2 linked regions of the Homo sapiens genome follow. The protein of the gene in region 1 interacts with the protein of each later gene in a biochemical or structural test. Each region holds a gene or a part of one and is shown in the gene's direction. Other genes may lie near its edges.

What was found. The genes of interacting proteins can lie anywhere in the genome.
Region 2: the proteins of AP3S1 (region 1) and RNF13 form a complex in vitro, tested with the Homo sapiens proteins (one study listed by BioGRID).

What each region holds. Positions count from the first base shown.
Region 1 is NC_000005.10:115,907,914-115,914,598, forward strand, and holds the end of AP3S1 (AP-3 complex subunit sigma-1), read left to right. Parts: intron 1-4,175; coding exon of another isoform or gene 4,176-4,223; exon of another isoform or gene 4,224-5,442; intron 5,443-5,448; coding exon 5,449-5,577; 3' UTR 5,578-6,168; downstream 6,169-6,685. UniProt on the Homo sapiens protein: Part of the AP-3 complex, an adaptor-related complex which is not clathrin-associated. The complex is associated with the Golgi region as well as more peripheral structures.
Region 2 is NC_000003.12:149,844,177-149,851,214, forward strand, and holds part of RNF13 (E3 ubiquitin-protein ligase RNF13 isoform 1 precursor), read left to right. Parts: intron 1-1,834; 5' UTR 1,835-1,850; coding exon 1,851-1,964; intron 1,965-7,038. UniProt on the Homo sapiens protein: E3 ubiquitin-protein ligase that regulates cell proliferation. Involved in apoptosis regulation. Mediates ER stress-induced activation of JNK signaling pathway and apoptosis by promoting ERN1 activation and splicing of XBP1 mRNA.

The sequences.
Region 1 (6,685 bases):
AAATAAAAGTAATTTATTGAGTCCTATGGAGGAAAAAATGTATAAACTTACGAAGTTAGATTATGCACTTACTAATTAGAAAAACATCACTGAGAATTGATGATTGTGGTGATATCACAAAGCATTGCCTTTTAGCCACTAAATTTTTACTTACTCTCTCGATGTGTTTGAGAAGAAGTAGCAACATACAGGTGGCTTTATAGTATCTTATTTTGAGATTGTGGGCTATGTCACAAAACTGGGGTACCGTTTTTGGTCCCTCTATCCATGTTATTTTGTCCCTCATATAGAGAATACATAGTAGTCTCATTCTCACCATTGGTCAGAATTATTGCCAGTTTCTGTGTTACAGTATGTAATTTATTACTGCTATTTTCCAGCAAAGAACCATTAATCACTTGGGTCTGTTAACTTTATTGCTAGAACTGTTAATTGGCCTTTTTTAAAAAAAATCAAGTTTCTGTTTTCAAAGAGGAGAGAATAAGAAAAGTGGCTCTAAGGTACTGATGGTGGAAGGTCAGCTCATGAGCTGGTTCTGCCTCTCTACCTTGACATACACATTTGTCTTGTACTTCTACAAAATTATGGTGAGAACCCTTGAGGTCACTTGTAATGGTCAAAACTAGTAATGATAAATCCATGAAAGTCATTAGTCTGCTCTCTTTTTTTCATGCAGGCAAATCCTATGTTTGAAATTAAAGCTATAATTGAAGATAATCCGTACAAAATGACTAATAATTTGGAAGGTTTTTTAAATTTTTGAGCACTCTAATTTTGTTAAAACTGTGAAACACCATAGTTATTGCTGTCTAGAGAATTGTCATGAGCTTATCTAAATGTTTATAATTGCAGTATTAAAGCACTGCCATTAAAACAAAGCCTATTATATATCCCCAGATTAAAAGTTATTCTACCTCGTGTTGAGGGATTTTTTAAACTATTGACATTTTCTTTTTTGCTCAAAAACATGCTTTCAAAATCTGCCATTATTTTGTTAATGATTTTGAGTCTGAAACCATTTAATATTGTGTTTATTAATGTTGGTGTTCTTTCACTTTGCTGTTAGGTCAAAATTATGAATGTGCATATAGCAACTTCCAGCAGGAAGGGTGGGTAAAGGTTTTAATACGTACAGTTTGTTCCAACTACCATCTTATTATGCTGTATTCAAACTTGAAAAAAAAAAAGATATTTTAAGATGGTAGGATGGTATTTTATGTCTTAGATGAAATAAATAACAAGATTACTCTATTACTTTCCTTTTCCCTTCAAGAAAGTTGATTGTTTATTGCATGAGGAAAAGGGAGCTTTCAGGGTCTTCGAAATACATTTTAGTAATGCTGCTTTTTCAGTTTTGCTTGCACATATTTTGTTTATTTTTGGGTCTGGCAATTTAAAAACAAAATCAAAAACAAATCATATCCATCCATTACTATCTTTGTGATTCAAGTGCTTGAAATTTCCAAGAGTATGTCTGTATAAGTCTTTATCTGTTTGGCCTCATTTTGGTATACTTGCAGACTTCATTTTGTTTTCTTTCTCTTAATTCTGTTAATTTATTTAATCTCATGGGAGAGAAAACATGATCATTCTTTTATATACTGTACTTCATTCTTTCATCCAGTTCATATTCTTAACTGCTTTGGATTCATATATTTGTTTTTATTGGTGTAGTCGCTGCAGTTTTACCTGCCATGGTGGTGCTCAGGTATAACATAGATGGAAACAAGTTATTTCTCCAGTAGAATTTCATTCTTTTTATTTCTGCTGTGTGTCAACTATATAATCTTAAATCTTTAAGAACTATGTTGTACTGTCAGAAATATCTTACTTTTACGTTTAAAAATGTATTTACAGTAATCCCCCCTTACCTGTGTTGGGTACATTCCAAAACCCCCAGTGGATGCCTGAAACTGTGTATACTACTGAACCTTATATATGCTATGTTTTTTCCTATGCATATATACATATGATAAAATTTAATTTATAAAATAGGCACGGTAAGAGATTAACAACTAATAATAAAAGAGAACAGTTATAACAGTATAATGCAATAAAAGTCATGTGAGGCCAGGTGCACTGGCTCACGCCTATAATACCAACACTTTGAGGGGCCAAGGCAGAAGACTCACTTGAGGCCAGGAGTTTGAGCCAGTCTGGGCAACACAGTGAGACCCCATCTCTACAAATGTATATTTTTTACATTAGCTAGGCGTGGTGGGACACACCTGTAGTTCTAACTATTCAGGAGACAGATGGGAAGATCACTTGAGCCCAGGAGTTCAAGGCTGCAGTGAGCCATGATTGCATCACTCACTCCACTGTGGGTGACAGAGTGAGACCCTGTCTCTTAAAAAAAAAAAAAAAAAAAAAAGTTATGTGATTGAGGCCTTTCTCTATCACAATATTGTACTGCACACACTTATTTTCAGACCACAGTTAACCACGGGTAAATGAAACCATGGAAAGTGAAATTGCGGGTAAGGGGGGACTACTGTACTGCTAACAAGTCAGGTAAACAATTTCTGTAAGTTTTAGCGTTGAAAAGTTAAGTGTTAGTAAAAGTTATTTTGTTGCTTTGAATGTATCTTACTGGAAAAAAAAAAAATCTTAACCAAGATGAAAATTACTTCATACCTCTGTGTCAGCAAACTGATTGCCTAATGGAAAGTTACTTTACATTTTATGTTTTAATAAAAATGTTTCAGGCATCACTTTCATGAATGTCTGAAAATGAAATTTGTTTTATAGCCATTCTGGTGTTGACTGAGTGACATAAAGTCTTTTTTTTTAGCCCTAAATTTTTATATATAAACATTGCTAGCTGGTTTAAACATCTGTTGATCAATTGTCCTTATCATATTTTCTCAACATTTTATATTTTGCATAATATGATTTCTTTTTAAAACGTTAGTTTAATTAAAACTTAAAGCACCTATTACAACTTTAAATTTTCCTACCATTTAAATTCATGGCATACTACACAAAAGTATTGAACATGCTTGAGAAATAATTTGATCCTCCTAATTCATTTGCGTGTTCTGAATAGTTCCTATCTTTTGCATGTCTATGGCTTGCTGCTTATGTTTAGAAGAATTGTAGTTTGTTGTACTTAGAAACTTCTTTTGGTTTTACATATTAAGCACAAATATGCTATTTAAATCAATTGCTATATTGACTTTATGTATTCTTGTTAGCAGCCAACAGTCGACACCATCTTTGGTCACAATGATACAACTCAATCTAATGAAATTTAACAGGATGCATTTTTAAATTTTTTTAATTTATTTTTTGCTTTAGTTTAGCTCTTCATGGTACAGGATATTATGGAAAAGAGAGCTTCATGTACATTTAATACTGAAAACATTATGTTTACTATTTATAAGTGTAAACCATAGTGTCCAATAAAATACACAGATAAACACACACACACACACGCACAATTTCTCTCACAATAATAAAATCCCTTAATAATTCACACCTTTAAAATATTTATACTCAAATATTTTGTCAATACTTTTCTATAGTCAGTTCATTATTTGTCTTCTTTATGGAAATTCCTAAGTAAAAATAGTGGCAAATTGGTCTTTTAACTAGAAAAATTACAAAATCCTCCTATCTAAAAAATGATACTACCTCCAGGACGTCTGCAATTTTGTAAATTTTTCTTCCTTAGTAGACAACATACTTCCTGGTAAAAGAAAGCCAAAAGATGGTAAACCTCTTTGAATTGGATTCTTCTTTGATCCCAACCCACTCTAAATTTTGGTAGCTAGACCTTTAACTTGAAACGATCAAATTAAAGACCCTTTCAAATATTATACATGCTGCCTTAATTATTATTTAGTTGTATCTCCAACATCTTTGGGGGAGCAGGAAGGAAGGGGGGGTAACAAAAACTTCATTGCTTCAGGTAGGTATAAGTATAGAGGTCAATCACATTTTTAGTTGTACATCAAAAATAACTAACATCCATTAAATTATAAAACTTCTCCAGCCCTATTCACTATTTAATTGGGTATGGAGTTATTCATTTGTATCACTCTTATCATTGCCTGTGTAGAATATACTTATTATTAATACTATTCTACTAATTTTTCTATTATTTCCAATTCTGAATTGATAATCCATGGCTTTTATTTCATTGCTTAACAATGTTTGTATCCTTTATTTAGCAAATAGTTTACACTGGCCTATTTTGTATCAGTCAAGATTTTTCTCAGGTAACAGCTTTATTATTATTTTTATTTTAATTAACAAAGGTAGGATTACATAAGAAAAGAAAACTAAAATTATGAAAAGGGACCTTAAAGCTAGTGTTTCTAATTTTATGGACATTGCCATATATAATCTAATCAAAGTGGAAGATTCGTTTTTGTTGTCTATTTTTGTACAAAATGATGCCACTGAACTCAGATGTCTTTGTTGACTTTGCTTTATTATATAGCCTGAATAAAAAGTAATGAAATGTAATTGGTATATAAATTAAACCTCAAATATGAAGGCTGTTAACGTAGGTGAGAAAAATGATATGTATGCATTTTCTTTTATTTGTAAGCATATTTTCTTTTAAAATTATTTCACAAATTACAAATGTTCCTACTAATAGGAAAGCCAAATATTATGCACTAGTGGTACTTACTGGAAATTTTAGAATTCATTTATTTATATTTACTACCTCTTGCATTTATGCTTTTCTTTCTCTAAATTTGTAAACTGTAAGCTGAATATATGTTGCTGAATCTATGCTATATGACAAAACATTTTTAATCGTTATATTTTTACTAATGCATCAAAGGGTTGGAATGATCCTCTTCGTGTAGTTTCATCTTTAGGCAGAACTATATTCTTTGGATTGAGGCTTTACTTGAAAGCCTATTTTTTTAATGTTCTAGAACTTTATTAGAAAAGTTTAAAAGAGCCCTCACAATTTAAAAAACTAATTTTATTGTTTTAAAATGTTTTAAGGGTTTATCCCTAAGAAATTAAACAAGCACAATCTATTACTTGCAATTTTTATTTCACAGCACATATTGCTAATAAATGCCATTTTAAAAGCAAAAGAAAATCTATCACAATCGTTGCAAGAGATATTTAATAAGGAAACTAATGTAAATCATGCTTCATGCTATCTGTCAGTTAAATCAAGATATAGGTGAAGATTTAGGTTTTATCATGTGAATATTGTGTGGTAGTGCACATTAATTTGTATTTAAATCTTTACATTGTTATCATTGCATGTGTTCACTGTATTTTTTAATGTGTCACTGTTTTCTCTTTATAGATTAGTATTTCAAAGTAACCATTCCATACCAATTCAAACTACCATCTGGTCCCTAAGCTTGTTATATGAAAATCTTTTATCATTGTCTTCCATTGTAAGTGTTTTATGATGAGCTACACCTGAGTTGTACATTTTCTTTTTCTTTTATTTGCTTCTGTATACAGGCTGGCTTAGCAGGAGCTCCAGCCCGTGCTGTATCAGCTGTAAAGAATATGAATCTTCCTGAGATCCCAAGAAATATTAACATTGGTGACATCAGTATAAAAGTGCCAAACCTGCCCTCTTTTAAATAAAAATGTAAAAAGGCCACTCCCAGGTAAAATCCAGGGGGAAGAGTCATCTAAGTTTACCATGCAGTTGTTTACCAAAAATAGAGGAGGAGAGTCTTAACTTTTGCTCTTGGATTTAAGTCAAGGTACTGTATAGAAGTTGTGTAAAATCAGTATGAAAGTTCAATGTTGCTGTTCTTGCTCAGTGATTTTAAAGAAATTGAGTAGTTCCTATGTGATTTTTTTTTTTCTTTTCTAAACTGCATTCCTGTGCCCACCTACGGCATGCCTCTATGTATTGGCTACTACAGTGTTTTAAAAAGTGTTTCAGATATTTCTCTAATTATGTACAACCTAAAATGTTGGTGTTTTGTATGGATCACAAGTGCAGCATTCCTTAATTCCTTCTGCTATATGTCACACAGTTGTTATTTGGAGAACCAAGTATGTATTGCATGAAAACATTATGACTTTTTTCTCTTAGTTTAAATAAACTCCAAGGTAACTGGACTTCTAAAGCACCTTTCTGTTTGCCTGATATCTACTTTAGCAATAATTTTTTTTACAACCCTCTGACTCAACAAAGTAAATAAAAGTATATTTTATCACTATTAAGCAGATGTTAATGTCGATTTATTTTTTACTCATATTTTTAATATTCAGAAACTCAGTAAATTATTCGGAAACTCAATTATTTCACAAATCAAGAGCAGTGTATCTTAGGCATATTGCGCAAGATGAGATCTGGAGTGGGGGGGCGACAGTCTTTCTAAAATGTATATTGAGAAAATGTAAAATCTTTTTTATACAAATAGCTTTAAGCCTTGCCTCTTGTTCCTTCTTGCCCAGATGGTAAAAAATAATTTCAGCCAATACCTAATTGATTTTGAATACAAAAACCCTTGGGACTCTACTTGTCTGTTTCATCCTAAAACAAAGTTAAACTAATGTTTTCTTAAGTCCTAACACTCACATATTCTAGTTTCTTATAATTGGCCCACATTTTATTTGGTCTTCCATGAACTGTGAGTGAGGTTACTTTTCCAGTTAGACTAAGGTTTTCCTTACAGTTCTAGTTCTCCTTCCTCAAATATTCTCTTTGAAATACTTCCATAGACTTGCAGCATGTATG
Region 2 (7,038 bases), on another chromosome or scaffold:
TTGTCCACATTCAGTGATTCACTAGGAGCATTTACAAGACTCAGCACATGGTTGTACTTATGGCTGTGATTTATTACAGCAAAAGGATACAAAACAAAATCAGTGAGAAGAAAAGGCACATGGGGTAAAGTCCAGAGTAAATCAGTGTAAGCGTCTAAGGGTCCTTTCCCAGTGGAGTTACATGGGATGCGTCTAATTCCTCAAGCAAGTTGTGACAACACATGTAAAATGTTTACCAGGGAAGCTCATTAGAGACTCAGTGCCCAGGGTTTATATTAGGGGTTGTTAATATAGACACTCTCTGTCTAGCATGCACCAAAATTCTAGATCCTAGAAGGAAAACAGGTATTCAGCACAAACCACATTTTTTGTAAAGTGTAGGCACACTGAGCTGTTCTTACTAGGAAATAGTGGGAACTGTCCTGAAATCTAAATTTCCAGATGCCAGCGAGGGGCCAACCTTGCAAGCAGACCTTTCTAGGGATAGCAATCTCAGGCCTGCTGTGTTAACTCTTTTCTGTACCATGGTATGTTATGAAATGTATTTTACTTAAGAAACGAATGTCAACAAATCTAGACATTTAAAAAAAGCTTTATTGAGATACAATTCTCACATTATAAAATTCAACCAATTAAAGTGTACAATGCAGTGATTTTTAGTATATTTATAGAGTTGTGCAACCATCACCAGAGTCTAATTTTAGAACATTTTCACCATCTCCCCTCCAAAACCCTTACTCATTAGCAGTCATTTCTCATTCCCACCTTTCCCCTCCCTCAAGCTTTCCCCCCACGCCCTGCCAATCCCTAGGCAACCACTAATTTACTTTTTGTCGTTAAGGAACAAATCTATACTTTAGCATGTTTTCATTTTTATTTCATCTCTGATATTAGTGGCTTTGTAAATGGTACCTTAAAAATTATTCACAGGTATTTTACTTCCAGTGTGTGAGTCAGAGATTCAGAGTTTGAGTCTATATGGCAGCTTCTATATCTAGAGCACTTATCCACACTAATCATCATCAAAACGGATATTACATGAGTTTGGGATATTTAATGAAATAATTCATTATAAAAGCCCTTGTTTTTGTAATGTTCGTTCTCACTTGTTTAAGAGTATATAATACAATTGATTGAGGCTTACCAATGATAATTTTTATATTTATGGGTTGACATTTAGTCTTTTCACGGTATCTTTTTGCTAAAAGAGAGAAAGGGACTCATAGTGAACAGGATGAAGTTGGGAGAGGTAGTTATGCTGTTGCCATTCAGACGTAGAGAGGGGAAAAAAGCATAGATTGTTAGGAGGTAATGGACAAAAAGTATTCCTTTATTATAAGTGGCTGTTAATTTTTTGGCATTCTCTGATGTTGGTACAATATACAATAGCAAATGAAAAGTAAATTTACATGTGAATTTATATTGAACCAGAAGTAAAAATTTTTTAAGTTGTAGAAAATTTTCAATTTTAAAGCAAAGATGCTTGTGTGTATGTTTTTAACCATTATTTTGGTTGAAATCTAGTTTCTCTGAAATTTGGGTTAGTAAGACAAGCTGTACTATAAACTGAGCACTGTGGGAGGATGTTTGTTTTGTGATTAAAACAGAACTTTGTCATCATGAGTTACATAGGTATTGACTAAACATGGGTGTTTACCTAAATGTCCAAATCTGTGTAAGTTCTTATGCTTTTGAAATAAAAGCTTTACTTTTAATGTTAATACATGTTTATAATTAAAAGGGATATTTTTGGACATTGGGAATTAATATATCAAATGATCTATTCCCTGGGACAAAGCACCAGCTCTCAGTTACTCACATCCTTGTCTTCCAGGTGATTTTACAACGAGATGCTGCTCTCCATAGGGATGCTCATGCTGTCAGCCACACAAGTCTACACCATCTTGACTGTCCAGCTCTTTGCATTCTTAAACCTACTGCCTGTAGAAGCAGACATTTTAGCAGTAAGTACAGTAAAATTTATTCATGTCTAGAAACATCCCTTAAAGAAAAGCTTAAAAAAAGCCTGGAATGATATTTATAAGACATTGTTATAAGACATTTTTATCTAAAAACATACCCCAACACATATACACAGTTACTTGACATTGAGGTACCTTATTCATTTGTTTATTTATTTTTTGAGACGGAATTTCATTCTCGTTGCCCAGGCTGGAGTACATTGTTGCGGTCCTGGCTCACTGAAACCTCCACCTCCCGGGTTCAAGCAGTTCTCCTGACTCACCCTCCTGAGTAGCTGGAATTACAGGCGTGTGCCACCATGCCCGACTAATTTTTTTGTATTTTTAATAGAGACAGGGTTTCACCATGTTGGCCAGGCTGGTCTTGAACTCCTGAACCTAAGGTGATCTTCCCGCCTTGGCCTCCCAAAGTGTTGGGATTACAGGTGTGAGCCACCACGCCCAGCCCCTTATTCATTTTCTATTGCTTCATATCTAATGTAAGATCTCATGAACAATCAGTACCTGATAAATAATGTTGCTCATGAGGGTATGTGTGCACATGTGGGTGCTTTGCACACATACCTACCTGCTGTGTGCTTACATAGAATTTTACTGTTTTTCTTGGTACCTAGTACATCTCTTAATGACTGTAAGATCTCAGTAGTATCTCTATTGATAATAATATTTAAGAAATTCTATAAGATGTTCATAGAAAATTTCAACCCAAGATTAGCATTAATGAATCAGAAGAGAAGCACAGTGGTCCTATCTTTGATGGTGGATAGAAAAGTTTTTAGAGAAGAAGAGTGCTGCTCAAAACCTTAGCATAGCCTCTCTTAGCTACTGTCTTACTTTCCTCCACACTGGGGAGTATACAGATGGTCTCCAGCTTAAGATAAGGCTTGACTAGTGAGCTTTCGACTTTATGATGGTATGAAAGTGATATGCATTCAGTACGCACCTCAACTTATGATGAGATTATGTTCCAACAACCCCATCATAAGTTGAAAATATCATAAGTAGAATTTGACTTATGAAACATTTTTGACTTAGATATTTTCAGTTTATGATGAATTTATCCAGATGTAGCCCCATTGTAAGTTGAGGATATATATTTTCTATTTCTCTTTTTCTGTGAAGGTAGAAAAAGAACATACATGCCTATACTCTAGGTCTGTGCTAAGGATTTGGTTTTACTTTCTGGGTGCAACTGATTTGCTTAATGATATCAGGTGAGAAATAAAAGGGCAAGAATTGTTGCTGACCAAAGCTTGATGTGGTCCCCAGCTGTGCTTCTGCACATTGCAGTAATTCTGGAAGATTCTGAGATCATTGTAGCACTTGAGAGAGCCAGGCTGGTTTCCATACCACAGCTTTTGAAGGCAGAGGATGCTAGTAATCCATACGAGATTTCTAACCCCCTGTTGTCCTCTGTAGTAGGGAACTGGTTGATTAGGTTTGTTTTGGGGAATAGTCTTGGTCTTTTTGAGGTGGAATGGAAATAGAGCCTTTAAAGACTGAGTCCATTGCTATCCAAATCTCCCTTCTAAATTGGTCCCTAAAATCCTTAGAATATTCTTGGCATGACTTTTGAAATGAGTTAGAGGATTTATGGACTGATCAGGGAATAAACTTCTCCTTGTCTCCTTTCTCTCCTTTGATTTCTTCCATTTTGTGTCTCTCTTTTTCCCTCTCTGTTGTTTTTAATACTTTTTGCCTTCTTTCTTTCATTTATACCCAAGGTGGATTGCTATTCTGTGGTGGAGCTCCCTGATGGGTTAAATGATTTTCAGTGTTGTGCTCTGGGAACTTAAGCAGATATATAACCTTGATCAAATTACTCAGCTGCTATAAGTGCCACAGTTTCTTTATTTCTTCATGTAAACTGGAGTGTTGTGGTGGTGATTAAATAAGATAAACTGCTTAGAATAGTATCTGACACATAGTAAATATTTTATATATGGTTTTAATCTTCATTATAATTATCATTCTGATTATACTTCATTCAGCCCCTTGAGAAGATACAAAACTACCTGAGCTGTATTTTTTAATTTAGAGACAAAAAAAAAATGTTAGGTATGGAAGAATGGTCAATCCTTTTTGCCAGCAGTGTTCCTTGTGCTTTACACAGGTACTTGTGGAATGTATGTTGATGTCCTGTAGTGAAGGAACTGTAAGATGGGAGCTGCTTAAATCTGGTCTCTATGCTGTCCATAAGGATAGAAGGCTGACACGAATGCAAAGATGGCTGGAGGGGAGTGGCTTGTGAAAGCATATAACTGGTAAAACAGGGAACTAAAAATTGAGACAGAGGAACTGGATGTGTGACAATCATTCAAAGGAAGTGAGTTAAGAGGTAGAAAATAAGAGCACCTCCTTTTAATGCAATAAGAGCATCCCTGAAATCTGAGTTTGCAGTAATACAGATATAAATAAATTAGACATCTAGTTCCAGTCAACTAGGTTGATTCTAGTTCCATTTGCACAGGGCTTGGGGTGCTGCTTTTGAAAAATTAAGTTTTAGTTATGCTATTTGTAATGCCAGATGCCTTTGATTTTTTGGTTGGTTGGTTGGTTGTTTTGTTTTGTGTTTTTTTTGTTTTTTGTTTTTTGTTTTTGGCAGTTGAATTCAATTCACAGACAACAGTGTTTGTCCAAGTAGTTGTTGAGTTCTAAGAGGCTATGGAGATGCTACTGTAGCATCTAGTCTATAGCTGACTAGACTAGCTGACTAGTCAGACAGACCTCTAGGCCATGAGTACTTGGAAGGCAGGACTGTGTCTTACTAAACTTTATTCCTGGTGCCTGGTGTCAGTTACACAGGAATTCAATAAACGTTTGAAGTAATTAAAAGCCTTCTCTTAGAGATTTTGTACCATCACATTTTCTTTTAATAGCATCTGTTCCTTAGTACTTTTAGATTACTGTTTTTATCTCTTATCATTTTTCTTTTACCCAAAAAGAAACGTAATACTATTAATTATGTAGGTTTATACTAGAAACATGGAATTTTAGAATTGCACTTAAGAGAGAACTACATCAGTGCTGTATATTCTGAGACTCAGAGTCCACAAGTGACATGTTAGTTTTGAGTAGTGCCCATGATTTTACTGAGAAGTAACATCCATCTTATATGAGAGTCAAACAACCCATGTAGCTTGATGCCCAGTCTGCCTTTTGATTCTTTTGTCTGGATTTGTCAGAGAGAATTGGTTGCTGGGTAGTGATTATTGAGGGCCAGTGTGCTGTGTAGCAAAGAAACACCCAATGGGTGGTGGTGTGAATGGATTGGATTATATAGCATGGGTAGTCCAGGCTCCAGAAATGGATTTATAATCAGAGTTGAAATCCAGCTCTACCACTCTATTTGCATGACCTTGGGCAGATTACTTAACATTTCTTAAGTCGCAGTTAACTTTGTAAAAGTGAGAGTTTGTGAAGGACAGTGCAGGGTAGTGGGTTAAGGGCTGGAGCTCTGTGGCCAGACTGCCTCGGTTAGAATCCTGGTTCTTCTAATTTACCAGAGCTTGTTATTTTCAACATTCTGTTGTCAATCTGTAAAATGAGGATGATAGTAATAGTGGCCTACTTTGTAGAGTTGTTGTTAGGATTAAATAAATTATTACCTGTAAAGTGCTTAGCATGATGTCTGTACATAATGAGTGCTCAGTAATTGTTAGATATTTATTACTTTCTAAATTCAATTAAACCTTTTGTTAAGGAAGCTGTCAAGAAAAATAATTGGTTAAGGAAAAGACCTTTTCAAAATAAGTGGAGTCAAACTTATGTGGTAATCACTAAGAATGGGATTCTAGTGAGGAGTAACTATTTTCTACTTCAGATTTTTTTTTTTTTTTGAGATGGAGTCTTGCTGTGTTGCCCAAGCTGTTGTGCAGTGGCGCAATCTTGGCTCCCTGCAACATCTGTCTCCTGGATTCAAGCGACTCTCCTGCCTCAGCCTTGCAAGTAGCTGGGATTACAGGCATTTGACATCAGGCCTGGCTAATTTTTGTATTTTTAGTAGAGATGGGGTTTCAACATGTTGGCCTGGCTGGTCTTGAACTCCTGACCTCAGGTGATCTGCCCACCTCGGCCTCCCAAAGTGCTAGGATTACAGGTGTGAGCCACCACATCCGGCCTACTACTTCAGATTTTTAAACAGTGAACATGCTTTAATTTTATGAGCATCGCTCCCCTCCCTCCTTATACCAAAAACGTAAAGTACCTTTGTTAGTCTTGTTCACTGTAGGAACATTTTTTGTTTTAAACAATATGATTTTAAGAGACAATATGAAACAATCCTTATTTTGCTGTTAAGGAAAGACAAAGCAGTTTCAAAAAGGGTTTCATTCAGTAACAAAACTTATTCCACATCTCAGTGTTACAAGTACTGTAGTTCAAGCTAGACATTTTATTTCTATAATTTTAGCTATAATAGTGAAACTCTTAAGTAATAGGAAGAGATAAAAGAATACTTTAGTATAGTTTGTAGATTCCCCATTTCCTAATTTCAAAAGTACATTAAAAAATACTGCTTACACACATTTGTATTTTGTCCTCATTCTATTTCCATTGATCTAGATAAGTTACTTTATTTTACAGTGACATCTTTGGCTGGGATGAATTAAATGTTTTTCTCAAGTTCAACATTAACCTGATCATAGGTGAATTAAATCAATTAAATGTGTTTTAATTAAGAGATTAAACGATAGATTGTGATAATGGGTTTAAAAGCATTTTGTAACTCTGAAGTACTTTGTAAACTATGGAGTACTCTGCAAATATGAATTATTGTTGCAATGGGAAATCACGCTGAAGCAATTACCACATATACTTGATGGCCTCCAAGTACACTGCTAGGATGATTATCCCAGCAATGACAGAATGAATAGGTTTAGTGACTGCATTTAGATGCTTGAATCACACAGTTTCCTGAGCTAATTACAAGCATACAGTGAGAGGCAAAGGTATAAGATGGACATGCTAAGACACTCAAGATAGGGTTCCAGTGGGATGCAAGAACCACACTACCTGAATCCTGGGTCACTTGTTGTAGTTTGTCCAGTCTTCCTGT